Linked DNA regions of Homo sapiens: regions 1 and 2 are each reported to be linked to region 3. The links are microRNA targets in miRTarBase. Many come from high-throughput screens and were not tested one by one. Region 3 holds a microRNA gene; each other region holds the end of a gene's coding sequence.

The links. Region 3 holds the annotated microRNA hsa-miR-4755-5p (UUUCCCUUCAGAGCCUGGCUUU, at 5,674-5,695, opposite strand). A microRNA usually pairs through its seed, bases 2 to 8, with sites in the 3' UTR of a target mRNA and lowers its output. Matches are read on the target gene's strand: a 7mer-m8 pairs with bases 2 to 8, a 7mer-A1 pairs with bases 2 to 7 and ends in A, and an 8mer does both.
Region 1: the mRNA of UFD1 is a reported target of hsa-miR-4755-5p. The part of its 3' UTR that is shown has no 7-base or 8-base seed match.
Region 2: miRTarBase lists ABCC12 as a target of hsa-miR-4755-5p. The part of its 3' UTR that is shown has no 7-base or 8-base seed match.

What each region holds. Positions count from the first base shown.
Region 1 is chr22:19,442,490-19,452,956 of GRCh38, forward strand. It overlaps UFD1 (ubiquitin recognition factor in ER associated degradation 1), which reads right to left. Exons shown (of 12, transcript NM_005659.7): 12 at 7,422-8,255. The coding sequence ends at 8,181. It overlaps C22orf39 (chromosome 22 open reading frame 39), which reads right to left and starts at 5,222. Exons shown (of 3, transcript NM_173793.5): 1 at 5,176-5,222; 2 at 4,889-5,056; 3 at 1-1,901. The coding sequence starts at 5,199. The coding sequence ends at 1,776. It overlaps UFD1-AS1 (UFD1 antisense RNA 1), which reads left to right and starts at 4,945. Exons shown (of 2, transcript NR_186687.1): 1 at 4,945-5,836; 2 at 9,105-9,199. RefSeq lists an enhancer at 4,418-5,320 and a silencer at 4,768-5,167.
Region 2 is chr16:48,076,655-48,087,121 of GRCh38, forward strand. ABCC12 (ATP binding cassette subfamily C member 12) reads right to left here. Exons shown (of 31, transcript NM_001393797.1): 28 at 10,087-10,165; 29 at 8,939-9,052; 30 at 7,255-7,419; 31 at 4,228-7,147. The coding sequence ends at 7,061. Among named protein-coding and RNA genes, the nearest start is that of ABCC12, 74 kb to the right of the region's middle.
Region 3 is chr20:34,044,356-34,054,822 of GRCh38, reverse strand. MIR4755 (microRNA 4755) reads right to left here and starts at 5,704; the gene lies at 5,633-5,704. The region is part of intron 2 of RALY (RALY heterogeneous nuclear ribonucleoprotein); the gene reads right to left. RefSeq lists an enhancer at 8,205-9,013.

The DNA of each region.
Region 1 (10,467 bases), not on the chromosome of region 3:
CTGCACTCTCCAGCTCTGCCCCAGGAACCTGAAGGCAGCTGCTGCAATCCCAGGCATCACATGCAGGCTGCAAACTCATTTTATTATTTTATCTTTGAGACAAGAGTCTCACTCTGTCGCCCAGGCTGGAGTACAGTGGCACGATCTCAGCTCACTGCAACCTCTGCCTCTGGGGTTCAAGCAATTCTCCTGTCTCAGCTTCCCGAGTAGCTGGGATCACAGGCACGTGCCACCATGCCCAGTTAATTTTTGTATTTTTAATAGAGATGGGGGGTTTCAACCATGTTGGCCAGGCTGGTCTCAAACTCCAGACCTCAAGTGATCCACCCACCTTGGCCTCCCAAAGTGCTGGGATTACAGCAGACTGCAAATTCAGATGCCCCGTCCCTGTGTTTAAGAGTAAGAAAAACCTTGTAGATCTCTAGCAGTCTTCCTCTCTTCCCTCACTGGGTGGAAATGCTCATTATTAAACCAGCCACAGCCATGCTGGAGGCACCCTGGTTGCCTTAGACACATCAGTACTCCCCTGATGATGGGGGAACGCTGGCTCCTCTTTAGATGCTCCTGCTCTTGGGATCCCGTGAGCACAACCCCCACCCCCACCCCCACTGTTCACAGACACAGGGGCTCTTAGGGAGCACAGGAGAAAACACACTCAAGCAGGGAAATACTGTTCTTTAATGGACACCCTTCTAACGTGATAGATTATTCTGCCCCAAAGAACAAATTAAAAGATATTCAACTTGCTGCCTGTGTCCAGGAAGAGAGCAGGGAGGGTGCTGGGCACAGACCCAGCCTAGCCCTCAGCATCACACAACAGGGCCACCATAGGATGAGAAACCATTCTATTAGTAATAAACAGACCTCTTCAAGAAATAGTGTTTTTGGTGGTTCATACATTTTAAAACACTTAACAAGAGAATAAGCATACAAATTTCTAATACTGTCCAGGTACAACACTGTTACACACAAAATCTAACAAGTGTGAACTTAATTTTCAGCTTCTATTTGAAATCAGATGAAATAGCTTTTGATACATTAACCACCAGGGGAAATTTTGAGGGAAGGAGTGCTTAATTCCATATGTCTTGGACTTGGATTTCTTCAGCTGAGTCCACAAACCCTCTTTATGCAAGGTTGTGTGTTCTGTAGCTGTGTGCATTTCTTAAAAACCAGAGTCTCCAGGGGCCGACCTGGGAGCCTAAGAAGTGAAGCCTGCTGGTGCAGAGGGGCCAGCAAGCCCTACCTGCTCGGCACACCTGCCTGCATGTGCAGTGGAACTGAGCGAGTGGAGCAGAGTGTGAGCACTCACAATGCTCACCAAACCTGGGACGTGGCAGGCAGTTTCCCAAGGACTAGGAAAGACATTCACAGTGGCACAACTGTTTAGCTACCTCATTATGACCCACCTGTGTGTCCACACAGGTCAGGGCTACCCTTCAGTTTACCTGAGAAGCCTAGACCTCAGGACCGCCATCTCCTATGCTACCATGCCCAGCCTGACCTGGCTGCTCACAAGTACCTGCCATAATGCTTGGCCTCCTGGAAGCTCTAAAGCGGTGCAATTGTCCTGCAGAACATCGCAGTGTCAGGGTATCCTGCATGCAGGTGAGGGGTGGGCAAGTAGGGCTAGCAATGTCCTGCTCCATGTTCCTGTGAGCAAGAGCTCACAGGGACCCACCAGACTGTGTAGGCTGGTCACAGTCCCCAGGGCTGTGCAACAGCAACTTGAAACAGACTGAGGAAGCTGCACAGGCCAATGGCAGGGATGCTTGTCACTCGTCCTTCTCCTGTGGCAGAGGGAGATGCCAGTCTGGAGGGGGGCTCTGCCTCGGGGCCCACACCAGGATGTGCTTCCGTGCAGCCCGGACTCGTGCCCGCTCGCTCTCACAGAGGGATTGCTGTGCAAATGAGACTCTAGTCACTCCCCAGGCTCTGAGCACCCTCAAGACCCCTGTACCTCCCCCCTCTCATCACCCTCTGAAACACAGATGGACAGGCAGGGCCTATGGTACACACCACTCTGCAGCACAGCTGCTTCCACCTACTATACCTTGGCGATTCTTCCATATTAGCGCACAGAGATGGAGATCATTTTTTTTCTCACAAGCTACTGTGAAAAACTACTGAATAGGTCATAATAATTTGAGGAATTTTTAAATATCTTCTCCTGGACCTCAGGGCTCAATGGCTCTGGTTGACCTCGTGAGTCTGGGGCATATTCACCTGCTGAGAGTGAGCCTGGGGGTGCTGGGTGGAGAGGAGAGAAGAGTCTGAGAGAGCAGCTGTGGGGAGCTGCAGGGAGGAGTGTGTTAGGGAGAAGGGAGGAAGACGGGGAAGAAATACATGTCCTGGGTATCCTGGAAGGGTGGGAAGAGTCCAGAGGACAGACCACCCGCCTGAGTGGTGCCACAAGTGCCACTTAACCCATCAGCTTCTCTTGGCTACTGTCTCCCAATACAGACACAAGTCAGTGTATCACAACATGGGTGACCTTTGCTGTCAGCCCTTGGTAGGTATCAGGTGCTATGTGAGCCTCTTTACACAGATAACTTAATCTGTCTACATGTCTGTCTTTGTTCAAGCTCTATTGCCTCAAATAAAATATTTTGATCGTGTTTAAAAAGCTATCAGAAATGTAGTACAGAATATTAAAGATTCCCAAATGTCCATTCCCAATGCGGCAGTTAACAGCTTCCCTGATATCTTTTTTTGGTCCACATTTTAGAGCTAACATGTTTCCCTAAAGATAGGATAATCTTTTGCTGGCTAGTCTACTTCCTGCTTTCTTTTCACTAAACAATACACTGTAGGCACTTTTCCATACCCAGGGAGATGACCGACCATTCTTTTCAAAGGCTATCTGGTATTTCACTTTGTGGAAAAAGCTATTTGGTCAAATGTCTATTAGTGAAATTTAGGTTGTTTTCAGCTTTTGCAGTATCAAAAACATAATTAGCATTCTAACTTTTAACTGTACACTGTTATCCAATTACTTCCCTGGGATAAAGTTCCAGAAGTAAAACTTAAGGTCAAAAGGTATGTATCTGACATTTACATAATCAGAACACCTGACACCCCCACCAACACTGCACAACTACCCAGAATTCTTCAAACCTCTATCAACACCACTTTCTGCTGTTACTGTCATTTAGACTTATATACCTGACACCTGGCCATTTGATTTTTTCTTTTTTTTTCTTGAGAGGGAGTCTTACTCTGTTGCCCAGGCTGGAGTGCAGTGACACGATCTCGGCTCATTGCAACCTCCGCCTCCCAGGTTCAAACAATTCTCCTATCTCAGCCTCCCGAGTAGCTGAGATTACAGGTGTTTGCCACCATGCGTGGCTAATTTTCGTATTTTTAGTAGAGATGGGGTTTCGCCATGTTGCCAGGCTGGTCTCAAACTCCTGACCTCAGGTGATCTGCCCACCTCGGCCTCCCAAAGTGCTAGGATTACAGGCATGAGCCACCATGCCCAGGCTTTTCTCCTTTTTTATTATTTTTATAAAGATGGAGTCTCACCATGTTGCCCATGGCTGGTCTCAAGCTCCTGGGCTCAAGCGATCCCCTTGCCTCGGCCTCCCAAAGTGCCGAGATTACAGGTGCCCACCACCATGCCCAGCTGGCTTTCTTTTTTAATGAATTGCTTCTTTGTGTCCTTTGGCCATTTTTCCATTCTGAAATAATCCCTATATTTCTTATTGATATATATATAACAGCTCTTTATACACACACACGCACATATATATACATTAAAGTTATCAATCTCTTGCTATATAAGCTGTCAGCTTTCTTACTTTTTTTGACTTTCACATATTATGGAATAGTCATCATTTTCTTTTATACAGCAGTCTGGTTTCCACATCAGTTCATCTCTTTCAGATCACTGTATACACTTAATAATGTTGAAGTGTTGATCAGTCCCATTGATTCTCATTCCTTGGCACTCCCCATGAGCCTCGCACCTTTCGGCTGGCTTCTCTCCATCTCCTCTCCCACAAGGGGTCCACCGTAGCACTGTATTCTACACTACAGTGTGGGTGCCAGGAGGGCAGAGACTCTTCTTATCACTCGTGCATCCCCAAGAGCACCCAATGTGGTACATATTTGCTGGACGAAAAAACAACTAGAACCACCTCCTTACCGGTCTCTCTGCTCCTGTAATATATTCTCTACACCCTAGCAAACAGATTGAACTTCTTTTACCCTCTCTCTTTTTTTTCCCCCCTGAGACAGGTCTCCCTCTGTTATCCAGGCTGGTGTGCAGTGGTGTGACCATAGCTCACTGCAGCTTTGAACTCCTGGGCTTAGGCGATCCTCCCGCCTCACCCTCCCAAGTAGCTGGGACCACAGGTGCACGCCACCACACTTTGCTAACAGACTGATCTTTTAAAGATATAAATCGAATTATGCCTCCCAGCACACTTTAGACTAAACTCTAAACTCCGTATCAAAAGGCCCGCCAGGTCCCTGGTATACCGCTCTCCAACCATCCACCTACCCTCTGCTTCAGGAACCCAGGCCTTATCTGTTTCTCAGCGGTGTCTACCGGGGCTGGATGAAGGCTGGCTCCTGGTCACTCAGGACTCAGCAACATCACCTCCTGCGTAGGCCAGCTGATGACCCTAACACCGGACGGCTGCCCTCTTCCCTCTCTAAACCACTCTACACCCCCTCCTCGCTGGTCTCCTCCTTTGTCTTTCACGCCCTCTGAAAGTCCTGTTGATATGCTAATTTACACAATCTCTCAAAAGAAAGGAAGCGTGAGGAGGATAGGGACCCCGTCAGTCCCCGGCTAGGTCGCGGGGCATGGGGCGTGGAGGGGTGGGGAAAGCTGGGCCCCGCAAGGCGCTCCGAAGCGCCGCCCCGCTCCCTCCCGGCGCACCTGGGCCTCGGCGTTCCGGCGCTCCTCCCAGTCGCGGCAGCTGGCCAGGTCGCGCTGCCACTGTTCGCAGGCCGGCCGCTCGCCGTGGACGTAGTAGTGGTGTAGGAAGTGCCTGGCGCTGCGGCAGAGCTTCCACTCGGCGCGGTAGGCCTCGCAGGGGCGCGGCGGCTGCGGCGAGAGGCGGCGCCTGAGCGGGGCCCGGCGGCCGCGCCCTACGCCCCGAGCCAGTCCCGTTCCCTCCCTCCGGAAGACCCCGGTGGTTCCCGGCTCCGACCCAGCACACTCACCTGCCAGCCGCTGCCGTCCGCCATGTCTGGGCGACCGGCGCGCCAAGCCCGCCCCTCAGTCCGCCAGCCAATGAAAAATGAAGAAAACGGCACCTCGTGATCGACTGACAGAAGAACTAATGAGCACCGACACATTCAATCACGTCTTCGCCCCCTTCTTCGAGAAGCGCCGACAAACAGGACGAGCAACCAATAGCAACCGAGGGCGGCTGCGGCGCGCGCGGAGGGCCGGGGTCGCAGGGTAAATCCGGGGCGAGACCTGGCGCGAAGCCTACGCGACCACCGCGACGACAGCGCCATTCACCCCGGGCCAGGCGGGCATCCTGGGCCGCGCAGCTACCTTACGTCAGCCGCCTCTCAAATCACACGGCTCTGGCCAGTTCTTTTCAGCAGCTTTATGAGATTTTCTCAAATCTCAACAATCCGGTATATTTTCAAAAGTACATACTGAGCATCAAGGTGGTGCAGCGAACCTCCCAGATCTGCAGCTCCAGCAGTCTTGCTTGAGCGTCCACTCAGGATGGAGGTGAACTCGCAAAGTAACTGAGATTGGTTGGGCATGACATATGGTGGATCTAGGGTTGAATGACCTCCCCAGGGAACGCAGGCTTGAAGTGGAGGCTGAGAATGCAATCCGAGTACAGCCATAGGCCGGTCAAAGGTATGGAGGCGGTGTGTAGCAGGGGTGAGCGGGGTAGGAGTGGCTTGGATGTCTGTAGTTCTATTCTAAGGGTGCGGGAGACATGTAACATTTACCTTATTCATTTTTCGAGACAGGGTCTTGCTGTGTCACCCAGGCTTAGTGCAGTGGCGTGGCGTGTTCATGGCTTACTGCAACCTCAAACTCCTGGACTCCGAACAGCTGGGACCAAAAGCATGCACAGCCTCACCAGGCTAATTTTTAATTTTTTTTTTTTTTTTTTGTAAAGATGGGGTCTTGCTAAGTTACCCAGGCTAGTTTGGCCTCAAGCGACCCTCTCACTTTGGCCTCCCAAAGTGCTAGGATTATAGGCGGAGCGCCAGTGCCTGGCTGGGACGTTTATAAAAAGGAGCAATGCACAAGAGGCAACAAAGGCAAGTAAAGAGGAGGCTGGTGGGCTTGCAGAAACGCCCTGCAGTACCTATGCTGCGGTTCTCCCACTTCACTGATAACAAATCCTCAGTATCCACTGATACAAATCCTGGGACTGCTGGGCCAGTCCCAGGAATGACACTGGGACAGACTCCCTGGAGGTGGATCAGAAAGCTGCAGTTTTACCAGGGGTCCTGCTGTTGAGGCAGCCGGCTCAAGGACCAAGCCCAAATAAGACACTGAGAGGAAGGCTGCAGGCCAGGGTGCAGGAGTAATGACCAGGATCAGTGCTCCAACTGGCCCCACTGTGTCATTAAAAGGCTCTGCAATGGAATCCATCCTGGTCCAGGCAGGGGAGTGTGCCTCCAGCAAAGGACCAGGCGTTTCACTGCATACACAGCAGGTGTTGCTTAGTGAAGACAAAAACCCAGAGCCAGAGGTACTGTAACATTCTTCATTATGCATAAAGTGACAGTCTGTTAGCTGATGTGATCCTGCAAATGAAGGCTGTCTACCCACCAAGGGTTTCTCCCTCTGCTAGTAAAACTGAGACTTTGTCAGTGGAGGCTCAGGTAAGTCCCCACAGTGCTCATGCCTTCCAAAACCACGCCCATTTCCAGTGATGATGGTTTGTGCCACAGGCCAAGTACTGAACATCATGACACTCATAGACACTCTTCACTGAAGACGTGGATAGACCCTGGGGCCACCATTCTCTCCTCTCTGGAGTGTTGGAGGGGCCCTGACCAGGGCAGGACCCCCATGTCTGGAAGCAGGGTTAGCCCTGGCTCATGGGGGACCCTGCTGGGCTTAGCCATTGCCACCTAGGGATCAGGCAGCCTTGTTTCTTCCTACTTTCTCCAGGAGAAGCCCCAGAGGGACACTTTTCTAATGGTGAGATGGAACACGGAGCACCTGCCAACAGGCCTTCAGTTATGGTCAGAGGCCCAACCACCAGTCTGTGTTAGTACCTAATCAAACATTTAGATTTAGGCTTTAGTTATTGCCTGTTTTTACTTGAAATTCTTGGCTTAGAATTATTCCCAATGGGGCCAGGCACAGTGGCTCATGGGAACAAATTTAAAATAATCAGATTAGCATGTCAAAAGATCTCACGTTATAGAAAGTGAAGATCTAAGACCAAATAAATACTGATAAAAAATACAGGCCAGCAGAAGCTTGGATGATTTAATAAATTAAAATTGGGAGTTGGGGAGTAGGGAAGAAGGAGAGGAACATCTCTTTAGCATTTGTTCATTCTAACATTCACATGTTTGCTTCTCCATGGAGTTGTTTCACTATGAACAGGTTCACTAAGGAGCCAGTTATGTCCATATGAAATGAGAATAAAAGTGCAAACTCATTCAGATCAGGTTCTTCTGAGTGGTGTTTTTGAAAAAAATATGTAAAATAAAAATAGAAACATTCTTTGTCAAATACTTAAATTGCAGCCACAGTAGTGGGACAGCCACTACTTATAGAACACATGTCTATTTAAAGCCTTTTTTTAGGCCAAAGACTGACACCTATGCAATTGATGTAGGAAAAGAAAGGATAAATGAAGAAAAAGAAAGAACACTTCATGTTAGACAATTTAGTCACCTTCATAGGTTTTGACAGAATTAGGGATGCAGAATTGCTCCTGCTGAGGCAGTGGGAGCTCCCCTCAAGCTGAAAGCGTGAAGAGGTGAGGAGGCAGCTATCTACAGGCCCTCAGGGACAGCTCTTTGTCTTTCCCCAAATCAAGCATACAACTACAAAGTCCTGCTGCTCCACTTCCAAGTCAAACTTAATAATTCTTAGGTAACTCTAAATAAATCTTAAGTAACAGAGTATTCTCTGATGAGGCTCGTCCCTGTCAGTGCCAGTAACTAAAAGCCAAGATGTTGCAAATGATTCTTTTATTATTTTCCAATCAGCCAACAGTCCTCACTTAGGGCTTTCTTCCCTTTTTACGCAATGACTGTCCTTCTCCAGAGAAAGCGACGAATCTGCCTCCAGCTTCATCCTAGGTTTGAAGAGAAGATACTATTTTCAGAAACTCCCTGGAGGTTTACAATAAATGCCTTACTCTATGGACTCACGTACCATCCACATTACTCATAAGAAATATCTCAGGCTGGACACGATAGCTGACACCTGTAATCCCAGCACTTTAGGAGGCCTAGGTGGGAGGATCACTTGAGCCCAGGAGTTCAAGACCAGCCTGGGCAACATAGTGAGATCCCATCTCTACCAAAAATAGCTCAGTGTGGTATGTGCCTATGATCCCAGCTACTTGGGAGGCTGAGACGGGAGGATGGTTTGAGCCAGGGCCATAGTGAGCTATGATTGTGCCACTGCTCCAGCCTGGATGGCAGAGCAACAGAGCAAGACCCTGCCTCAAAAAAAAAAAAAAAAAAAAAAGTCTGTAAGTTCATCACCCAAAAACATTTCAGGTCACTTTTCTGTACATGCTTAAAGAATTGTTTTCCCACTTAATTCTGAAATCTCATGCCAATAAACTTCCTGTCTAGTATACTCCCAAGGCTACAGAACTGAATTCTGTAAAAAAGAATTCCATGATGTAGGAGGGCCAGTTTTCTACCAGTGGACATTGTTGTGGTAAGCAGCTTAATGTATTTGCACACAACTCTGATTTTTTTTAGAGCTCAAATTCCTGGGTCAAAGTGTGTACACACTTTTAATGCTTTTAACATATAGAGACCAACCAGCCCTCAGAAACATTCCACTAAGCTATCCTTCCATCAGCAGAAAGAGGGATTGTTTTTTCCCAAACCTTTGAAAACTGCACATATTTTTTTTCACATGCTTTTATTGCTAGTCAGTCTGAGGCATTATCTCAACTTTTCCCTAGGAAGAAGAGGATTCTGGAATGTTCAACACACATCCCTGCACCTGGCTCCCCACTAACTGTAGCATGTTATACCTGCAATAGAGCACTGTTTAGTATTTATGTGGTCACATTCATGTAAATTTGAGTCACAGCTGCATTTAGTCTTCCTTTGCCGCACAGCCTTCCATTCATCCTGGTGTCAATAGCTGTGTTTGGCTTCTTCCTCTATTCAATCACAGCCTGCATTGCATGGAGTTCATCTGTTTTGACAAACCTGTGTCTCCTGGGCCTTCGCCCTGCCGTACCTGGACTGGCCTTTCTCTAGGTGCCGTACATGTTAGTGGGGGCTCCTTATTTCCTGGATTCTATGACTTTCTTATTTCTACCTTATTCCTTCATTTTAGTGAGGAACACCTCCTAGGAGCTTCCTGAGAAAAGATGCATGAGGATTATCTTCTTGTGAGTTCCTTTTTTCTAATCTCATATTTCATTGATAGGCTGGTTGGTATGTTAGTCTGCTAGGGCTGCCATATAAAATGCCAAAGATAGGGTGGCTCAAACAACAGAAATTTATTCTTCATAGTTTTGGAGGCTAGAAGTGCAGGATCAAGGTGTCAGCAGGTTTGGTTTCCTCTGACACCCTTTTCCTTGGCTTGCAGATGGCTGCCTTCTTGCTGTGTCCTCACATGGCCCTTCCTATGTCCAAATTTCCTCTTCTTAAAAGGACACCAGATTGAATTATGGCCAACTCTAATGGTCTTATTTTAACTTAATTGCTTCTTTAAATGGCCCTATCTGAGTTACTGGGGGTTAGGGCTTCAACACAGAAACACTGGAGGGACACAATCCAGCTCATAAGAGTTGGTACAGAATTTTAGGTTGGAAAAAATTTCCCCTCAGAATTTTGAGTATATTGCTCCACTATCTTCTAGTTTCCTCTGTGTCCTGCTAAGATGATGTCCCTTTTTTTGGGAGACAGGGACTTACTGTTACCCAGGCTGGAGTGCAGTGGTGTGATCTCAGCTCACAGCAGCCTCCACCTCCCAGGCTCAAGTGATGCTCCCAACTCAGCATTAAAGTAGCTGGGACTATAGGTGCGTGCCACCATGCTTGGCTAATTTTTAAAATTTTCTGTAGAGACAGGGTCTCCCTATATTGCCCAGGCTGGTCTCAAACTCCTGGGCTCAGATGATCTTCCCGCATCAGCCTCCCAAAGTGTTGGGATTACAGGTGTGAGCCATGGCGCTTGGCTGATGATGTCCTTAATGCATGGTGATACCTCTGTTCTCTCTCTAGAAGCTTTAGGATCTTTCTTTGCCTCAAAGTGGGGCTATTTTCATTCATTTTGCTGGAACTCAGTGAGCCCTTCAAATCTGCAAAATTG
Region 2 (10,467 bases), not on the chromosome of region 3:
AGCCCAATCCTCCCCCCTACCACTCTTTGAATGAACTTGGACCAGTTTTAGATCTTCTGGGCCTTCTTTTCCTAATGTGTGAAGTGAAGAGATTGGACTGGGAAAGCCAGCTCTGGGATAAAAGTCCAGTTTCCTCTCCCTGCCATCTGGGTAACCTTGGGAAAATACACAATCTCTCTGAGCAAACAAGAAAAGTCATTCCTACCTCATGAGCTGTTTTAAAGCCTTAATGATGTGATGTATGCCAGGTTCTTAGCCCATAGCTAATAATTATAGTCTCTGAGCTCCTGTACACATTGACATAGTGAGAATATTCATTTGAGAATGCTGTATTGGCCAGGTGCAGTGGCTCAAGCCTGTAATCCCAGCACTTTGGGAGGCTGATCAGGACAGATCACTTGAGGTCAGGAGTTCAAGACCAGCCTGGCCAACGTGGTGAAACTGTCTCTACTAAAAATACAAAAATTGGCTGGGTGTGGTGGTGAGCACCTGTAATCCCAGCTACTTGGGAGGCTGAGGCAGGAGAATAGCTTGAACCTGGGAGGCAGAGGTGGCAGTGAGTCCATATTGTGCCACTGCACTCCAGCCTGGGTGACAGAGCAAGACTCCATTTAAAAAAAAAAAAAGCTATGTTAAAAAAGGAACCTTGCAAGATGGGCTACCACAATTTCTCTTTCTAAAAAATGCAAAGCCAATAAGCACATGAAAAGATGCACAACACAACTCATTAGGGAAATGCAAATCAAAACCACAATGAGATACCACTTCACACTTATTAGGATGGCCTTAAAAAGGAATTAAATTCTGATACACGCTGCAACATGGATGAACCTTAACTGAAATAAGCCAGACACAAAAGGACAAATACTATATGATTCCATTATATAAGGCACCTCATGCAGACAGAAAGTAGAATAGTGGTTGCAGGGTTTTACGGGGACAGGGGAATGGGGAGTTTAGTGGGCACAGAGTTTCAGTTTGGAAAAATGAAAAATATCTGGAGACGGATGATGGTGATGGCTGCTCAGCAATGTGAATGTACTTAATGCCACTGAAATATACACTTAAAATTGTTAAAATGGTAAATGTTTTGTTATTTCCATTTTACCATAATAAAAAAAATTATTTAGAGCAATGCAGAACAATTGCCACAAACCACGCTGAGGCTTCTTTGAGTGTGGCTCTTGCCAGGTGAAGGAGGCAGGTTTGTGCTAAAACAATAGAAACTGACTTGGTCTGGTCCTTGAATGCTGGTCTCGGCAGAGGGAAAGCTCTCAGCTGAAGCCAGGAACGTGCACATCATGAAGTTAGGCAGGGCTTCTCCATGGAAATTGACATTTATTTGAAGACGTTAATGCTTGATTTGGCCTTACCCAGAAGTGACCTTCTACACAGGGCCAAAAGAAAAGTGATTTCTTTGATCGTCCATCTGACCCAAAACTGAACTCCTGCCTTTTCCAATTCATTTTGAATCATGCTGTACTGGCCAAAGTGATTCCAGCTCTTAGCAAAGAACATTTCATATTTTACCAACAATTCTGGGCCAATTTCAGATCTGTTCACTTGAACAGCAAGAATAAAATCTGTGAGTTCTCTCTGGGTCTTTCTGATCTTAAGCAGTAGGGAGGGAAGGCAAGGGGAATATTTATAATTTGCGTGAAGCTTGGGGGACAGATGAGAATCGGAAACTCCTCCCTGCTTCAATGTGAACTGGCTCACTTGGGCCACATCTGAGTGGGAGGGAGACGGTGTAACTCGCAGTGCGGGGACTGGGATTCTTTCTTCCTCAGGTGAGGATCAGCATCTTCCCAGGCAAGAGGAGAATATGACTCTTCTGTGTTGTTTACAACACTTTGGGCTGCAAGTAACAGCAAGACCAACTAGAGTTGGATTAAACAACAAGGAAAATGTATCCTCTATAACAGGACAAGAAGAAGGAGCTATACAAAAGAATAAGATCATGTCCTTTACAGCAACATGGATGCAGCTGTAGGCCATCATTCTAAGTGAATTAACGCAGAAACAAAACCAAGTATCACATGTTCTTGTAAGTGGGAGCTAAACATTGGGTGCACATGGACATAAAGATGGGAACAACAGACACTGGCGACTCCAAACGTGGGGAGGGAACAAGGATTGAAAAACTGACTATTGGGTATGTTTTCACTACTTGGGTAATGGGCACACCAGGAGCGCAAATCTCAGCATCACACAATATACCCATGTAACAAAACTGCATGCATACCCCCTGAATCTACAATTAAAAAAAAAAAAAAGACAAGAGGTAGGGTGACTTCAGGGTTGGTATATCAGCAGCTCCGTGCAGTAAGCAAGTCCCTGTGCTCTGTCCTTCTGTCTTGCTTCCTTCATGCTCACACGAGGCTGCTGACTCCCCAGATAGACCAGGCAACGGGAGGGTATGCCTTCCAGACCCCATCCCGACAACCAACAGACTTCCCCCTCATATGAATCATATCCCACGCCAATGCCCCAAATCGGAAGACAGCAACCTTTCTCTGTAAAGGAACAAGATAGTAAATATTTTGGGCTTTGAGGATATACATTTGGTCACAATCACTCCACTCTGCTGTTGGAATGTGAAAGCTGTCATAGGTAATGAATTAACAAATGAGCATGGTTGCATTCTGATGAAATTTTATTTATAAAAACAGGTGGGCTGGCTGGATTTGGCCTATGGGCTAATTTGTCCACACTTTTTCTAGACCAGGTAGCCTCAAAATTAGCTCCAGGATACAAGTGTTGATGAAACAAGTCACAGGCAATTTGTTACCAATTTATAACCACATGCTTGTAAGTGGCTTATTCCATTCTCTGTTGGCATCTACTATTCAAAAGGTCCTAATTCATAACATTGAGCATATGATCACCCAAAAGGCAGATGATATCAGAGCACAGCAAAGCTGGGGCACTGAAATAAATGAGAATAAAAATTTCAAGGCCAGGCGCAGTGGCTCACGCCTGTAATCCCAGCACTTTGGGAGGCCGAGGTGGGCGGATCACTTGAGGTCAAGAGTTCAAGACCAGCATGGCCAACATGGTAAAACCCCGTCTCCACTAAAAATACAAAAATTAGCCAGGCATGGTGGTGCACACCTGTAATTCCAGCTACTCAGGAGGCTGAGGCAGGAGAATCTCTTGAACCTGGGAGGTGGAGGTTGCAGTGAGCCGAGATTGCGCCATTGCATTCCAGCCTGGGTGACATCTCAAAACAACAGCAACAACAACAACAAAAACATTTAATTACATTTATAGGGCATTCTAATCCCCTCTGAATGCCCAAATTCCAATAGAAACTGTTTTCATATCTCCTTTTTTGTTTCTCCTATATTGAAAGTCAAGAATGAAAAAGACCTTAGCACTTTGTCCAAATTTTACAGATGGAATGGAGGTTCAGAGAAGGCAAGCTACTTTCCCCATATCACACAGCCACTCAGTGGCAGAATGAAGATCCCAACCCAGGCTATAGTAGGTTGTTGTATTGTTCAAAATATTTGCTGCCCCTCCAAAGAGGAAGCTTATACAACTCCTGCTGGAATAAGCTTGGTCCTTGTGCCTTATGGTGGCCCTCCCTGTGGAGTAGGGTATATACCACCACCACTACCCACACTGTTGAACTCAGGAGCAGCCAGGCAATTTGTTTTGCCCATGAAATGTGGATGAAAGTAGCATGTATCACTTCCGATTGCCATGTCTGCCTGCCCTCTACCACAAAACATGATGTTCCTGGCAGAGACTGCTCTGCTCCGCTGGGTCACAGAGTGAAGAGGATAAGCACAGTCACAGCTCACCTGTGATGGATGTGTCACATAAGCAAGAAATAAGCCAGTGTGGTCTGGGGTCTTTTGTTACTGCAGCATAACTGAGTCTACCCAGACCAGTACTCAGGCTTTACAACACAGGCACTGCTCTTTCTCACCAGGAGGATTGCATTTCTAGCAGTGTTGCATGGAATTTAACAGCACATGTTTTATTTTTATTGTATGTATTTCTGTAGTGACGAGGTCTCACTTTGTTGCCCAGGCTGGTCTCATACTCCTGGAGGAGCACACTTTTTAGAGTCAACCTGCCTGGATTCAAATCTCACCAGTGGCTAACCTTGGTCAAGTTACTTTCTTGATGCCTCAGTTTCCTCATCAGTAATATAAGGATAACACTTGTACTGTGTTAGTCTATTCAGGCTGATATAATAAAATATCTTAGACTGAGTAATTTATAAACAACAGAAATTTATTGCTCACAGTTCTGGACGCTGGGAAATCCATGGTCGAGGTGCCAACAGATTTGGTGTTGAGTGAGGGCCCATTCCTCACAGATGATGCCTTCTATGTGTCCTCACATGGAGGAAGGGGTGAACAAGCTTCCCCAAGTCTCTTTTATAAGAGAGCCAATCCTATTCATGAGGTCTCCACCCTCATGACCTAATTAATCACCTCCTAAAGGCCCTACCTCTATACTGTCACACTGAGGATTATGTTTCAACAGGAGGATTTTGGGGGAACACAATGTTCAGATCATAGCAGACACCTACCCCACAGGGATATGTTCAGGATTTAATAACCTAAGCCTGTGCTTTGAGGAATTTGGCTAAATGGCTACTATTATTCTACATAGTCTCCCCTTGGCTGACATGGCAGTGATAGCAAGGGGTTGGGGTGGGAGAGGGGTTTGCTAAGATGGTTTCGTGTCTTATACATGCAAACAGCCAAACCCTCAGAAGTCACTCTCCCCCAGGGATGATACTGATGACCATCACTGTCCTTGCAACAGGCCAAGGGGAAAGGACTGGAGGGGCTTTGTTGTGAAGGGGTTGGGAGCAGGGCCTGTGGAGCCAGACTGGTTAGGGTTCAAGCCCTATCTCTGTCCCTTCCTTCCTGGGCATCTGTAGATAAGTTACTAACCTCAGTGAGCCTCAAATCCCATCTCATGGGGTGAGATGAGGATTCAGTGAAATAATTCATGGAAAAAATGCTTGTCACAGTCCTGGCACACTGCAAGGTCTCAGTAGACATCAGGATCAATGTCGGTGTTCTTCTTCTGCCAGAGTAAACCAAAGCGAGTGTGGGCAGAAAAGGAGTCATAGGAGGTGATTCATCTCTCAATGCATCTGAAGGAGCAGCAGGGATCATTGTAGTCTATCCTCTGTCCTCATGAAAACACCACCTCTTGAAATCACAGACTGATTATCTGGCTGGTGTCCAGTTGGTAGAAAGTAAAGCATCCCTCCCTGACATTGCACAACTGTCATGGATTCCCATGGCCAGCACAGACTGCCCAGTCTGCTTGTCATATTGGGGAAGTTATCTTATGTCCATAAAGGTGATGCCCACACTCAGCTGGGAGCAGCTGCTCAGAACGCTGTGGATGTGGGTTTAATGACCTTCAGTCAGGGTCATGCACCATGGGGGAAAGCTCAGATCAGGCAAAGATACACTGTGTCCCTTCACAGAGAGATCCACACTTGGCCTGGAGCTGCCCACAGAAGGAACCCCCTGGCTCACGTCCTTCTCAGCCACATGTCTTAGTGCACCCTCTGCTGAGGGCAGGATCCATTGCTGCCAAGCTGCTGGGCCAGGGCTTTCATGCAGTTGCCAGGTTATAAGCTCTACCTAAGGCCAGGTGTGCTCACCTCCCCGCTGGTTGGGTAGACCCCTGCCCAGGCCTGGCCGGAGGAGGGCTGGAGAATAATCGGTTGGAGGTTAACCTCACATGCCCAGCCCTTGAATTGCTGGCTGTTGGCTTTTTGGCCAGAAATCCAGATTAAGCTCTTAACATGCACACACACCTGGGAGGGGTGTCCGCCAGGCTCCACAGCTGTGTTTCAGCGAGTTCATTAGATGCTGTCATTCATGGCTGCCACAAGTGTTTCCCGAGTGCTTCCAGGTGCCAGGCACTCCTTCCTCCACGTCTGGGGAAGCAAGTACGTGACCAACACTTACAAGGGAAGTGGGGTGGGGGGTTGTGGTCTGGAAGCTTTGCTGACCACACTGCCCTGAGCTACATTTAGAGCTCAGCCTGGGGCCTGGAAAGCAGGCCCAGGGAACCTCATGGGGCCTTCATTCCTGATGAATGAAAAACAGCCAGAACTCCCAGCGTGCCCCTTGGCGGCTACTACACAAGAGCTTGCTGGATTTTCTATAAATATTTTTTTCCCAAATGTCACCATGAGTTAGCAGCGCTCACTCCTGGGGCTGCTGGGAATACATCTTTACTGCTTCCATCAGAACCAGCCTCCAGGTTGGAGAGAAAGCTTTTTGTTTGGTAAGCGACTGTGAAGGTTCATTACTGAGTGAAGGGAGAAGGCAACAAGGGTCTATTGGAGGAAATAGTATGGAAATTGGAATATCTTCAGTGAAATAATTGCAAGGCGACATTTCAGGGTAATTTCCTACCGCGTTTTAACGACGAATAAAGAAGATATAAAAGTGTCATTTATAGAGAAACTCCAGCATTTTGTTTTCTTGGTTATTCTAACAGATCAATTGAAACATATAATATGATTTTTAAAAAAATTTTTGGCCAAACACTGTATTCAGTCTTTCACGCTACAAATCTGTGTCATTACCACTTGTCACCCAGTCAAGATGGAAGTGAGTGGGGTTAAACGAGAAGAAAATTCTGCTCTTTTTCCTTCTGATAATGGGCAAGGAAACCTTGCAAACTCCATCCTAAGGCATTTTCCCATGTTGTTTATTGTGGCTGATTTCTAACTGAAAGTTACAATATTTTCAATCTCAGGCACTGGGGTGGTTTTGGTGAAAACACATGAGGAACCCTTGGGGATTTGGGAGGTGAAGGGCAGTTTTTTAATCCATTAGCTGGGTCTGCCCCGGTTCACCACCCAGAACCAACCCCAAGCCCACCAAGTGGGGTGACATGGACTGAGTATGGCAGTGGGGACAACTTCAGCCCCAGCTCACTCCGTGGATGGGAGGGGCTGAAGACCAGGGCTGCCTGCGGAGAGGACAGCCCCTCCTCCTGAAGACTCCTCCTATTCATCTCACAGAGCCTCTTCCTCCTCTAGAATCAGCCGCCAGGACCTCTACAATCTGACTTCTGCTGCTAGTAACATCGCAAATGCAGAATCTGGCTTCTCTGCAAGGACTTCAGGCTTGTCAAACTCAATCACCTGAAAGTCAGAGAAGAAGAACTGAAATCATCGGAAAATATCTACCCACTGTAAAGCTCAAACCACTGGACTTTCTGGGGAGGTGAAGCCAAAAGAGCTTCCTATACCTTCCCATTTTCCATAACCAGGACGTGATCGCAGTTGAGAACTGTGTTGAGGCGGTGGGCGATGGTCAGCACAGTGCAGCCCTTGAAGGCATCTTTGATGGTGTTCTGAACCAGGGTGTCAGTCTTGGAGTCCATAGAGGCGGTGGCTTCATCAAGGAGAATGATCTGTGGAGGAGGAAACATTATAAGCCAAAGGCGCACTGAGAGGGGAATTTACAGCCTCGGCTCTATTTACTTTAAAAAAAAGAAGAAGAAGAAAAATAAGACCACAAGATGAAAAGTAATTAGCTAAACATCCATCTCAAAAAAGAAAATGAGAAGAACAAGAGTGAAATAAAAGTCACATCACATCACCTCCATCTTTCCAAAGGAACTTGCTAGAGGGACAAGGTTGTATATCCTTTATTCCTCTTTTTAAGTGGTTTATTCTAACCCTACAAACTCATAGGGAGACAGGCTGCACAGGCTTTATCTACTGTGCTAAACTGAGTCGGCATGAAGCACAGCAGCTCCTACATTCATTCCCTATATTGCTGCCATACCAAACAATCACAAACTTAGAGACTCAGTGTAAATTATCTTCTAGTTCCAGAAGTCAGAAATCCTAAAATCAAGGTATTGTCAGGGCTGCATTCTTTCTGTTTCCTTGCCCTCTCCAGTTTCTGGGCCACTTGCATTCCTTGGCCCACAGCCCCTCCTGGCATCACAGCTCCTTCTCTCTTTGACTCTTCTGCCTCCTCCTTGGAAAGCCCCATATGAATATGCTCAGCACACCCAGATCTAGGATCATCTCCCCATCTCAAGATCCTTAATCGCAACTGCAGAGTCCCTTTTGCCAGGTAAGTTAATATATTAAAAGTCTCGGAGGAACATGTTCGCAGGTTCCAAAAATCAGGACATTAACATCTTTGGGGAGGTGGGGGTATTATTCCGCTGATCACAGGACGGATTTGATTTAGCAAATCAGAGCACTTGAACTTAACCCCTGACTCTGCTTGACTGGCCAAGTTACTTAACTTCCCCGAGGCTCTGTTCCCTCGTAGGTGAAAGGGGGCTATGCCTTATTGATGAGCTGGATATGGAGACTACACTTAAACCACTTAGCAGCATGCAGTGCCACGGCAGGCATCAGATCCACGCCGGCCCCTCTCCCCTGACATTAGCACATCTAGAGAATACACACAATGGGTCACATCTTTGATGAGGCTTCAGAGACTGGCATTACTAAAGCAACAGCAATCCCTTCCTGGAAATCAGTAAGTAAGGGTGGCTAAGTTACAAAGAAAAATAAGTATAAATTCTACAATTCCCATATCCTAGCATTCTGATGGCCCTCTTGAGCATCCTGGGGACAGTGTATCCAGATTCAGAATTGTTCAGAGACAATGGGAGAAAGTTGGGAGACAGATTTTTCAAACTCAAACCACTTAGGCAAGCAGAGTGAAAATCTAAGCGAGACCTCCCCAGGGGAAGCCTGGGAGGGGAAGGTGCTCTTGCTGTAAATGGCTGTTACTTTTCAATTTTTATCCCTCACAACTTTGTCTTAAGAAAAAGTGATCGGTTTTTAAATGGCTCAATTGCTGTCTCTTTGCTGAAAGACATACACGTGGCTCTGCCTCCTGGATTGAGTGGCGCTGCGGGAAATATCCAAAATTTGACCAATCCATTTTCCGTGTTTTCTTACCTTTGAATTACGGAGAAGAGCTCGGGCCACACAAAGCAGCTGACGTTCCCCTACTGAGAAGTTTTCTCCATTTTCTGTGACTTCTGCCTGTAATTTTTCTGGGAGTTTCATTATCTACAAAACACAAAAAATGCCACATTTGTGCTGATGATCTATAAAATTGTCCTATGCTGTCTGTATTGATTGCCCCCTTCTCTTGCATTCATCAGCTTGCTTTATTTTACTGTGGCAAAGAAAGTGCAAAACAACAATCATTTCAATATTGCAAACAGGCACCAGGGAAAGACCAGGGAGTAGACGGACATTAATAATTTAAAATCACAGTATGACTCATAGAACCCCATAGACAATTCACCAAAAGAACAAATGATGCAGATGCAGTCCCAGAGAGCAAACAAACAAGTGGAAACAGCTTTCTGGATTGCTGTTTCCAGGGACCAAATAGAGATGGGATGGGAGAGTTTTCTGGACATTAAGGAAGGGTAAGACAGGGTCTGACTTATCCAGAGTGACAAGCCAAAGTGGCCTTGGAAGATGCTCATGTCGGTACCAAGTCCTGGAAAAATATCACGTTGGGCTGCAGAGGTGTCCATGCTCACCTGCTGACCCCAGCTGGGGCTGTAGCTCTTATAGGACAGGGTTCCCTCTCACAGATGGTTCGGTCCTCTCCAACCAGCCATACTTGCCATTCCCAGAACATTCCACACCCTTCTGTTTTCTGTGGCTTGTCTGTTCTGATAGCAAATGAGGCCACTGGCAGAGTAGCAGGGCCTTCCATCTGCTCTACAGCCAGACAGGCTTGAGTTCAAGTCTCCATCCTGCTACTCACTAGCCTGGGCATGTTACTTCCCTGAGCTTTAATTTCTTCATCTCTAAAATTAGGGGTAAGAGTACCAACCTCAGAGCATTGTAGTAAGGACCAAGTGAGATGATACATGTAGTGCTCTTGACTGGATCATTGTAGAGCCCTATTGTTGCTTTTAATAGGAAAGAATAACTAAGGATTATGTTCTACTGACTTACGTGGTGTCTACAAATAAACCTGGCTAAGTGCTGGCCTAGGTGCTTGTCAAATTTAAACATAGGCCAGGAATCTAGGGCAGTGGTGCTGGGAAACAAACTCCTCCTCAACAGCCCCAGAGACCTACTGTGTCTCTCATGAATGTTCTCTCCAGAACCTGCCAGAGCATCTCATCGGTGTGACTCTCAAAGGGATCCAAGTTGTACCTGCAATGAAGGAGAGGAGAGGACAGGGAGCCAGATTTCCAAGGACGAGAGGATGGATGCGGAGCAGGTTTTCTGTAGCATGTGGAGGAGGGTAGGAGGTGGCATGTGATGACCTCGTGCTCCAAGAATAGTGCTCAGTACAGGACAGTGGTCCACAAAATATGGACCTCAGGCCACGAGACCAAGGGCCCACAACTCTGCAATGGAGCAGAGACCACTGAGGCAGGCAATGACAGGTGGAACCCTGCCGAGAGGCAGCTCTGAGCAAGGTGCTCAGAAAGACACACCTGGGCCTCTCAGCA
Region 3 (10,467 bases):
TTTTTTTGAGACAGTCTCATTCTGTCACCCAGGCTGGAGTGTGACCTCAGCTCACTGCAACCTCCACCTCCCAGGTTCAAGCGATTCTTGTGCCTCAGCCCCCCAAGTAGCTGGGATGCCAGGCATACACCATCACGCCTGGCTAATTTTTGTATTTTTAGTAGAGACAAAGTTTCACCACATTGGTCAGGCTGGTCTCGAACGCCTGACCTCAAGTGATCCACCTGCCTCAGCCTCCCGAAGTGCTGGGATTACAGGCTTGAGCCACCATGCCCAGCCTGCAACCAATTTCTGATCTGGCAGTGGTGGCTGGGGCCAGGAGTTTTCTGAGTACAAACCCACTGATGTGACGTCCCTGTAGAAAACTCTTCGGGAAAGCTTTTGTATCCCACCCCGTAGGCAGATCCAGCCACTCACTCCTCTGGACCCAGATACTCTCTGCTGACCTCTACTGCAACATCTGCTGCACTTTTGTATTTACACATCTGTCTCCCTCCATTAAATTCTGAACTCCTTGAAGGCAGAGACTATTTTATTAATCTTTGCAATCCCAGCCTCCAGCACTATACTAGCAACCAGTGAAATTTCTGCTAGTGAACAGGTGAAAGAATCCTAGGTGGGCGTTTTTCAGTAAATGGTTTCCCAAGGTACATGATACAACAACTCCTTAACAGTGAACCGTGTAGCTGATGTTTGTGAGATGAGCTCAAATTCCTCATCCATCAGCAGAATAGAAGGAGATGTAAGACACTGATGAGAAAGAAAATAAAGGAGAAGGCAGAGTGAGAAGCTGGGGGTCACTGGCATCATTGTTCAGTATACTACAGGGAGCAAAGGCAACAAAAGCTTGAGTCTGCAGCCCAGAGACTACTGAATCTGGGCTTTCTGTAGTGGGTAGTATGTATAAGGACAGCAGCAAAGGCCAGAAAATGCCATCCTTGTCAGCAATATCAATAGTGACAGAGATTCAGCCCTCCCTCTCTTTATTATCTGGTCACCCTGAGATGAAGCCCAACCACTGGCCCCACCAAGCTATCTTAATGGAAAGAATACTGGGCAAAGAGTTAGGAGACCATAAGTTAATCCCTGAGAATGTACTAAAATTTTCAATTAATAAATATTTCTTGGCTAGGCATGGTGGCTCACGCCTGTAATCCTAATACTTTGGGAGGCCAAAGCAGGAGGACTGCTTGAGCTCAGGAGTTCAAGACCAGTCTGGGCAATATAGTGGGAGCCTGTCTCTAAAAACAATTAAAAATTAGCCGGGCATGGTGGTACATGTTTATAGTCCCAGTTACTTGGGAGGCTGAGGTGGGAGGACTGCTTGAGCCCAGAAGGTTGGACCTGCAGTGAGCCATGACTGTGCCATTGCACTATAGCCTGGGTGACACAGCGAGGCCTTGTCTCAAAAAAAAAAAAAAAAAAAAAAAAAAAAAAAATTATTGAACATCTACTAAATGTTGGCCTTGCACTAGGCACTTGTGAAAAGGGTCTATCACTAATTTGCCGTCAAACCCTGGACAAGTCACCATCTCTTTTCTGAACCTTAACGTCCTCATATGATACATGGAAAAGAACCTCTATGTCACGGGATTGTGTTGTGATCAGATGTGCTTTGAACAATCTACCATATAAACTTGCAAATTTAAAGGTGATATTTTTGGGCTGGATGTGGTGGCTCACACCTGTAATCCCAGCACTTTGGGAGGCCGAGGCAGGCGGATCACCTGAGGTCAGGAGTTCGAGATCAGCCTGGCCAACAGAGTGAAAAAAAAAAAAAGTTTCTTTTTAAACTTGATTTGATCTTAACTAGAGGGCTTAGTAAAATGCAAGGATAGCCCCACTAAATGCCAAAGCCAACTTCCTCTGCCACTGTCTGGATAGAAATCCAGCAGAACATTCCTACCCCCTCAATTTTGTGATGGAGACGGTGACAGAGGAGCAGAAACTTACACATTCTCTTCAAACCCCTCTCAGGATCTTTTTTATATTACTGGTGTCAGAGCTTAGTTCTTAGTAGGAGCTGGACTGTGGGGACTGTGGGCCTACTGGATGAGTCCCCCAGATATAACTCAAATTTCTTACAGCAGGAAGAACAGAGTTCGACTTTGCACGGTAAGGGCACCTTTCCAGTTACTGAGATAATTACTTGACCCCTGGTCCTTCAACTGTTTGGAAACATCTGATGGCCATTAAGCCTGTTGTTTCCTCATTTTCCTGCCTACTGGGATAAACACATCAAAACAGAAAGCTTGATGCTCTAACAATGCTCTCTGATTAGTGGTTTGCAGGATCCTCTGTAATTTTAGGATTTGCTGGCTAGAAAAGGAACAATAGTGGAGTACAAATTATGGTGTGGCCTAGGAAAAAGTTAGGCACCCTGAGATTTAGACTTGGTTCTGCCATGGGCTGTAGACCTTGGTTAGAGACCTTAAGCTTCCCTCATCTTAAAAATTAAAGAACTGGACTGAGTCAGTTACATGAAATCTTCCACGGAAAACCAGGGTTCCTCAAGATGTTAATGAGAGTTCCTCAAAAAAGGGGCTCCAAGGTTAAATAAGAAGAGGAAATTTGGCATATTGCACTCTCAACTCGTTCCCAAGAGACACACACAATAAGGGTCTGCAAAGGCAGCGGTAAAGAAATTTACTTATTAGCATTATTCAATCTGATGTTTCCCAAATTATTAACATCTCTTCTGAGGAAGACACAATTTGAGGAAGACACACTGGGACAGATCTCTAGGGTCCCTGTCAGCTCTAACCTACTGTGATTTGCATCAGGAGTACTTAGCCAGTGCCTGGAGCACCCTGCTTCCCTTCTTATCCAGTTCTCTTAACCTAGTGAGGCATTTAAATGATACTCTGGTTAATGAGAATTTATTATATGTAGTCCATTTTACTGTAGTGAAAGTATCAGGCTGGGCGCAGTGGCTCACGCCTGTAATCCCAGCACTTTGGGAGGCCAAGGCACCTGGATCACGAGGTCAGGAGATGGAGACCATCCTGGCAAACACGGTGAAAACCCGTCTCTACTAAACAACAACAACAACAAAAAAAATTAGCCAGGTGTGGTGGCAGGCGCCTGTAGCCCCAGCTACTGGGGAGGCTGAGGCAGGAGAATGGCATGAACCCAGGGGGCGGAGCTTGCAGTGAGCGGAGATCACGCCACTGCACTCCAGCCTGGGCAACAGAGCGAGACTCTGTCTCAAAAACAAAAAAAAAGTATCAAATTTCAAAGACTCAGAGTGCAATATACTGAAAACGCTATCCTATGAGATAGGATACCTGCAGTTACTAAGCTCCTAACACATGTTCTGTACTGTGCTAGCATTTTCCATTAATTATATCATTAAATCCATACACAACCATAAGGAGTAGACATTGTTATCCTCGTATTACAGAGAAGGAAACTGAGCTCAGAGAGGCCAAGTAACTTGCCAAAGGTCACACAACTAGAAAGTGGCGAGCACCAGATTTCAAACCCAGGAGTACTCATTTTCCAAATCTTGGTTCTGTTTTGGGCTCTGCCACCATGACTATCAGATGGTCCCTAACTCTCTTTAAAGCTTCCTGGGCCTTAGTTTCCTCAACTGTCAAGTGGGAATAGTAATCCTTACACTGCTTCCCTCACAGAGTTGCTCTAAGGTTCAAAAGCAGTAACACGTATGAAAGGGGTCTGTAATATATAAAGATGTGAATATTAGGGGCATTTGAAACATCATGAATAAACGTTGCTATTTCTGTTCATGAATTTTAAGCTGTTTGTTCTTGCAAGGTTCCCAGTCATCCCTTCCCAAATAGTGCTCCTTAAAATTTTCATCAGGATTTTGAATAAACAGGAAATATGTCCATTTCTCTCAGTATTGATTACTCTCTAGGCTGTCTGACAGACTCACACTAAATTGCCAATCTGCTTCTTAGGAGTCAGGAGTGAAAACATCAGAGTGGGTGAGAGCCTGGTGGGAGGCCTGTGAGCTGGGAGTTATCTGAATAGAGATAGCATACTGGCTGTGGGGCTAGACTCCTCACCATCATCTTGGAACATGGCTGGGAAATAGGTCCAAAGGGTCATTTGGACAGCAGATCCCAGCAGCCTCTGTATGAGATCTGTCCAGGAGACTAACCCCATTATATGGGATGGCAAGAGGGGGAGGTGACTGGAAATGAGAAATGGGACCAGGCTGACCAGCTACACTCTCAGATAGAGACTACCCTGACAAGGGCCTAGGCACAGACACAGAAGTAGTTGGGTGCAGGGCTCTCAATTCATCCTTCAACCCTGCCTGATATCACATCCTCATAACCCACATTGCTGTGGCCATCTGCTCCCTCTAGTTTCTGGCAGATTAAGGCCAAAAACAACAGCAAAGCATTTTTGGATCAAGGTCCTGCCTGGGGACAGAGAAGTAAATAATACAAGTCCCTGTTCTTAAGTAAGGCACTAGACCAAGACGGTTTGAGCCTAACTAGAGGCTCTCTTGCATAGCAAAGTCTCTGGCACATGGGTTATATTCAAGAATTGTTTGAACCGAACTGAATCAAAGGAACCTACATTCTGCAAGTTAAGAGCACCTGTTTGGTGTCAGGAGCCCAAGACTTCTAGATTCAATCCTGGTTCTGACATGTACAATTCAGGGACTCTGGACCTCAGTTTGCCCATCTGTAAAGTGCACTTTGTCTACCCCACAAGTTGCTATGAGTAGCCAATGAAGTAGTGGCTCAGTAAATGGCACTCTGTAAATGGCATGAGATGGAACAGCAGGAGCTGATGGGAGCACGGGCGCACATGATCTTAAAAGTTTAGAGTCCAGCCTGAAGAAGACCTGAAATAAGCTCCTTTCTTTCTCCCCAGTCAGCTTAGATCTGCTTTTCAAACACAGCAGACATTCTCTGCATTTCTGGTGACTGTGAAAAGGGGAAGGGGATAATTTGCCACTAAGTAGGGGATAGAAAGAAAGGTTGCCATCTTTATACTTTTCAAAATAAGAGCACGGGATTTGGATTTATAATCCTAACTTTTGTTAATCAAAAGCTGTGAAACTATGAACAAGCCTCAACCTCTCTCAGTTTCCTCATCTGTACATTGTGGGGAAATTTCCTAAGTCATAAGATTGCAGTTAAGGTTCAATGAATTAATGATGTCAAAAGTGTTTTGAAATCCACAAAATGCCAAACAAACGCCAATCATTACAAAGTTGTCTGTCTTCTCATCAGTTTACCAGCTACATAGGACAGTGGTTATTTACCATTTGACAGGTGAGATCATCAAAGCCCAGAGAAAGTGCTTAAAGTAACACACAGCTCAATTCTGACTTCTTACAGCAGAGGTAACTGTTCCTTTACTACAGGGGTTCTTAATTAGCCTGCTTGCCTCATTAAACTGACAGATCTCTGAGGGAGGGGACTACATACATCTTACACATTTTTGTACCCCAGTGCCCATCATGGCACACCTAAAAGATGTGAAGTGTTACTAGAATGATGACTAACATATTGGTAGCAGAAACATATCTAGAACTCAGGACTCCTAATCCCAGATCCAGGGTTCTTTACAACCATACAGTGGCCCAAACCTCATAGACTCGGCTTGCCTTAACATCTCATCTCTTCCTCAATTCTCCACTCTAGCAAGATTCAACTTTCCCTTCAGAGCCTGGCTTTCATAGATGCCAAAGCCAGGCTCTGAAGGGAAAGCTGAATCTGGCTTTCATAGATGCCAGTTCCTCAGCCATAACCTTCCTCATCTCTCCTTGCTGAGCTAATTCCTATCCATCTCTCAGACTTGGAGGCCTTTCTAATCTCTCCTAATACTGGGTCAGGTATTTACTTTCCTCCATGGCTGTTTTGTTTATCACAGAGTCCTGGCACACAGAATGTGTTAAAAGTATCTGTTGAAGGCTGAATGAATGAAACACTGGGTGTAGAAATCCAAAGGTGATGCAGAGAAAATTTTTTTTTTTTTTTTTTGAGACGGAGTCTCGCTGTCTCCCAGGCTAGAGTGCAGTGGTGCGATCTCGGCTCACTGCAAGCTCTGCCTCCAGGGTTCACGCCATTCTCCTGCCTCAGCTTCCCGAGTAGCTGGGACTACAGGCGCCCGCCACCACGCCCGGCTAATTTTTTGTATTTTTAGTGGAGATGGAGTTTCACCGTGTTAGCCAGGATGGTCTTGATCTCCTGACCTCGTGATCCACCTGCCTCAGCCTCCCAAAGTGCTGGGATTACAGGCGTGAGCCACCACGCCCGGCCGCAGAGAAAATATTCTTGACCTGGAAGTCATGCAGCCTGACTGATTCTAATTCTAACTCCACTACTAATGCGTTTCGTGATCTTGAGCAAGTCCCAGTTCTTCTTTGGACCATCTATAAATGAGTTACACAGTATGATCTCAGAAGGTCCCTCCATTGTTAAAAGCATATGAGACTTAGACTCATGTGAAGTCCTAGGGATGAGGAGATTCCAAAGCCAGCTATATGCTCCATAGCATAGGAGACCCAACACTCTCATCCCCCCAGGAGCACGAGAGACACACGACTCTGCTGTCAGGAGCCTCCCAGCCCATTGGTTTACTTAATTCCTCTTGATGAAGTGCCAAGAATAAATCGTAGGTGAGCAGCAGAGCATTTTAACGAGTCCAGAGCCTAATGAATCTTTTCCTTCCTGTGTCAATTAGAATTTCAAAGCTAGGATCCCCAAGGACCAATTTATTGGGAACAGAGAGAAGAAGCCTTTTGTTCATCAGCAGCTGCCTGAGCTACCTGCTCTGCTCCTGTATCTCTGCTGTGTAACAATCCTGCTTACTCAGATATAACATCTGGCACAATAAAGCCTGGCCTGGAGGCTCCTTCTTGCCCAACATTTCTGGGGTCTGAACTTGAGGAAGGAAACAAGGGTCCAGGGTATTTCTGAGGGCAAAGGTGGGGTTGGGGGTTGGTCAGGGAATCAGAGCAGTGCTGACGTTGCTGCTATCTCCTAGGGATACTGGCCTTCAAAGAGCTAACAGCCACAGATCACCAGGCTACTCACCCAACTAAGTATCTGGTACTGTGTGGCACCTATTTACCTGTTATTTTAAATCCTCACAACCTCAAAAGCAGATATCAACCACATCATTTTAGAGAAAAGGAAAAAGAGGATCTGAGAGCTAAAGGATCAGCCTAAGGAACACAATTATTACAGTAAATGGCAGAGAAGGATTTGAACTCAGGTCTGTGCGACTCCGAAGACTAAAGCTCTATCAAACCAATACAACTCTGCCAGGAGCTGATGTCTTGAATGGCAGAGATGGCCCATGGTCAGCCATAGACACATTAGGCATTTGCCACCAACACACTGTCTTTTGCCCGGGCACATGCAAGAGTGGCTGCGCATCACCAGTCCTTCCATTCAATGGAGCTGGCAATCCTCCATCCCTAGAAGATAATCCAAGCAGAGTCACCATCAACACTGCCCCCTGCTCCTACCCCAGAAACCTTTTATTTGTGAGGAATTTCCAATTCTTGATCTAATGGCTCCCATGCACCCAGTTCTCCACCTCCCATACTGTCCGCTCTAAGTCACACAGGGCCAGCCCAGGTACTACTGCTCTGTATTCAACAAAGACACATTTTCCAAGGTCAGCAGATTAGCAAGTCAGGTTTCCAAATGTAACTAGTGTTGAATTTTAGGGCTCTAGTGTGAAAAACACATTAAGAATAGAGGTCAAGGCCAGGCATGGTGGCTCACACCTGTAATCCCCCCACTTTGGGAGGCCGAGGTGGGAGGATCACCTGAGGTCAGTAGTTCGAAACCAGCCTGACCAACATGGAGAAACCCCATCTCTACTAAAAATACAAAATTAGTCAGGCATGGTGGCACATGCCTATAATCCCAGCTACTCAGGAGGCTGAGGCAGGAGAATTGCTTCAACCCAAGAGGTGGAGGCTGCAGTGAGCCGAGGTCACACCATTGCACTCCAGCCTGGGCAACAAGAGCGAAACTCCATCTCAAAAAAAAAAAAAAAAAAAAAAAGAGTGGAGGTCCAGTGACTTGTCCAAGTTTACACAGCTAGAAAATCACAGAGCAACAACTGGAACACAGGTATATACTGAATCCTAACCTGGCCTCTATCTACACACAACAAGAATAACAAATATATAAAAAATGAGATCAGTGCTTTTTAAAAATTAACTTTTTATTTGGAGACAACTATGGAATCACTTGCAGTGGTAAGTCCTTTTAAAAGCACTGGACACTTAGCAAAGTGCCGGTCACACAGAAACCCTCCCAAGAAATGTTACCTATTAAGTATTACGAAAAAGGCAAAGGGCATTCAGAAGGCACCTTTGAGGAGGAGTGAATAAGAGTTTCTCTTTACCCAATGCTTAAAGTATGTACACATACAATACCTTAAATAATCCTTCCAATGACCCCATGAAGCAGGTGTTAATAGCCTCATTTACAAACAGGAAAACCACTCCCAGAAGTCAAGTTACTTGTCTAAGATTTCTTTGGTCCCAGCATGTGCCAAAGCTGGGATTCAAATCCAACTATATCCAACTCCAAACTTTATCCTCTTTCCACATTGCTTCTTTGGAGATAAGACTGGGGCTGGGCTTCAAAGACAAGCCTCCTGGATACAGACCTGTGGTTAAGAGCAGGCTGCCAGTTCAGGTGTGGAAATAATAGCATGAGCAAGGATGCAGAGTTAGCAACATGTCTTTGCAGAGGGTAGTAGTTCAAAGACACCGGCCTGAATCAAACAGTAAATTCACATGACAAAGACCAAACAAAAAGCTAAAGTGAGGGCAGGTGGCATGGGGTCCTGGAATGCTGCTAGCTGCTTGTGTCAATTACATGGGTCACAACTTGATTCCCTTCCGCTGGAAACTGTAAGAAAAGGGGAACGGCACACAGAAAATGAAGAGCCAGACACCAGACGGCAAGAGAACTGGGGAAAAGAAATCAAGTTTTACTCCTAACTAGGTAAGTAGCCTTGAGCAGGCCAATTTCCCTCTGTGGATTTCTAATACCAGGGATTTAACTAAAAGATGTCCAAGGACCACTCTAGCCATGACCTTCCAGAAATCACTCTATTACCAAATCATGTGAGCAAATGTAGGTCTGAGAAATGGGAGAGAGCTACATGAGGGAGAAGAAAATGAAGGTATTAAATGGGATTCAAGTTAATATTGGCCAAAAGACAGAAGATGGCAGAGAGCAAAGGAAGGGAGCCTGAACCAGAACGTTCCCAATCCTGGCCTGGCTCATAACTTGCTGTGTGATCCTGGCTACATGCCAACTTCATTTCCTCATCAGCCCAATGGACCTCGGGGCCCTATGTTCTGGCCTCAGCTGCCCACTCTCCAACCTTATCTCCTGCCTCTTTCCTCTTTACTGCTGCTACTCCAGCCACACTGGCTGCCTTCTAATTATTCTACAAACATGCTCTTGCATCAGGGCCTTTTCACCTGCCCTTCTCTCAGCTGGTAATGATCTTCCTCCTTAGAGAGGTCTACTCTGGCCACTTTTTAACATTTTACTCCTGCTTATCTTTCTTCATAATGCATATAGAATTACATAATTGATTTACTAATTTTTTCATTGTTTTCCCCATTAAAATAAGTTCTACGCTGGGCACAGTGGCTCATACCTGTAATCCCAACATTTTGGGAGGCCTCCGAGGCAGGAGGATCGCTTAAGCCCAAGATGTTGAGACCATCCTAGGCAACGTAGGGAGACCCTGGCTCTACAAAAAAAAATTTTTAATTAGCTAGGTGTGGTGGTGCATGCCTGTAGTCCCAGCTACTCAGGAGGCTGAGGTGGGAGGATTGCTTAAGCTCAGGTCAAGGCTGCAGTGAGCCACGATCATGCCACTGCACTCCAGCCTGGGTGACAGAGTGAAACCCTGTCTCAATAAATAAATAAATAACAAGTTCCATGAAGGCAGTCCTTGTTTTGTTCATTACTGTATCCCAGTTCTATGGGCAGTATCAGACATCTGTTGAATGGATAACTGAATGTATGTAAGTATAAACACTGTCCCTAAGGTCCCTTCCAATGCTGGCTTTCTGTGACTAACTTACGGGCTTGTGGAACTGGGGAACATCTCAGGAGCTCCAAGCCTAGGTAAGCTTAGGTCCAATCTGTCCTTCTGGCTTCAATTTTTGATATTTGCTTGGCCTCAATGGTTCTTCAAATGTTAACACACGTCAGGTGTGGTGGCTCACGCCTGTAATCCCAGCTTCGGGAGGCCGAGGCAGGCGGATCACCTGAGGTCGGCCGATCACCTAAAGTGAGGAGTTCAAGACCAGCCTGACCAACATGGAGAAACTCCGCCTCTACCAAAAATACGAAATTAGCCGGGTGTGGTGGTGCATGCCTGTAATCCCAGCTACTAGGGAGGCTGAGGCAGAAGAATCACTTGAACCTAGGAGGTTGCAGTGAGCCAAAATCACGCCATTGCCATTCCGGTCTGGGCAATAAGAGA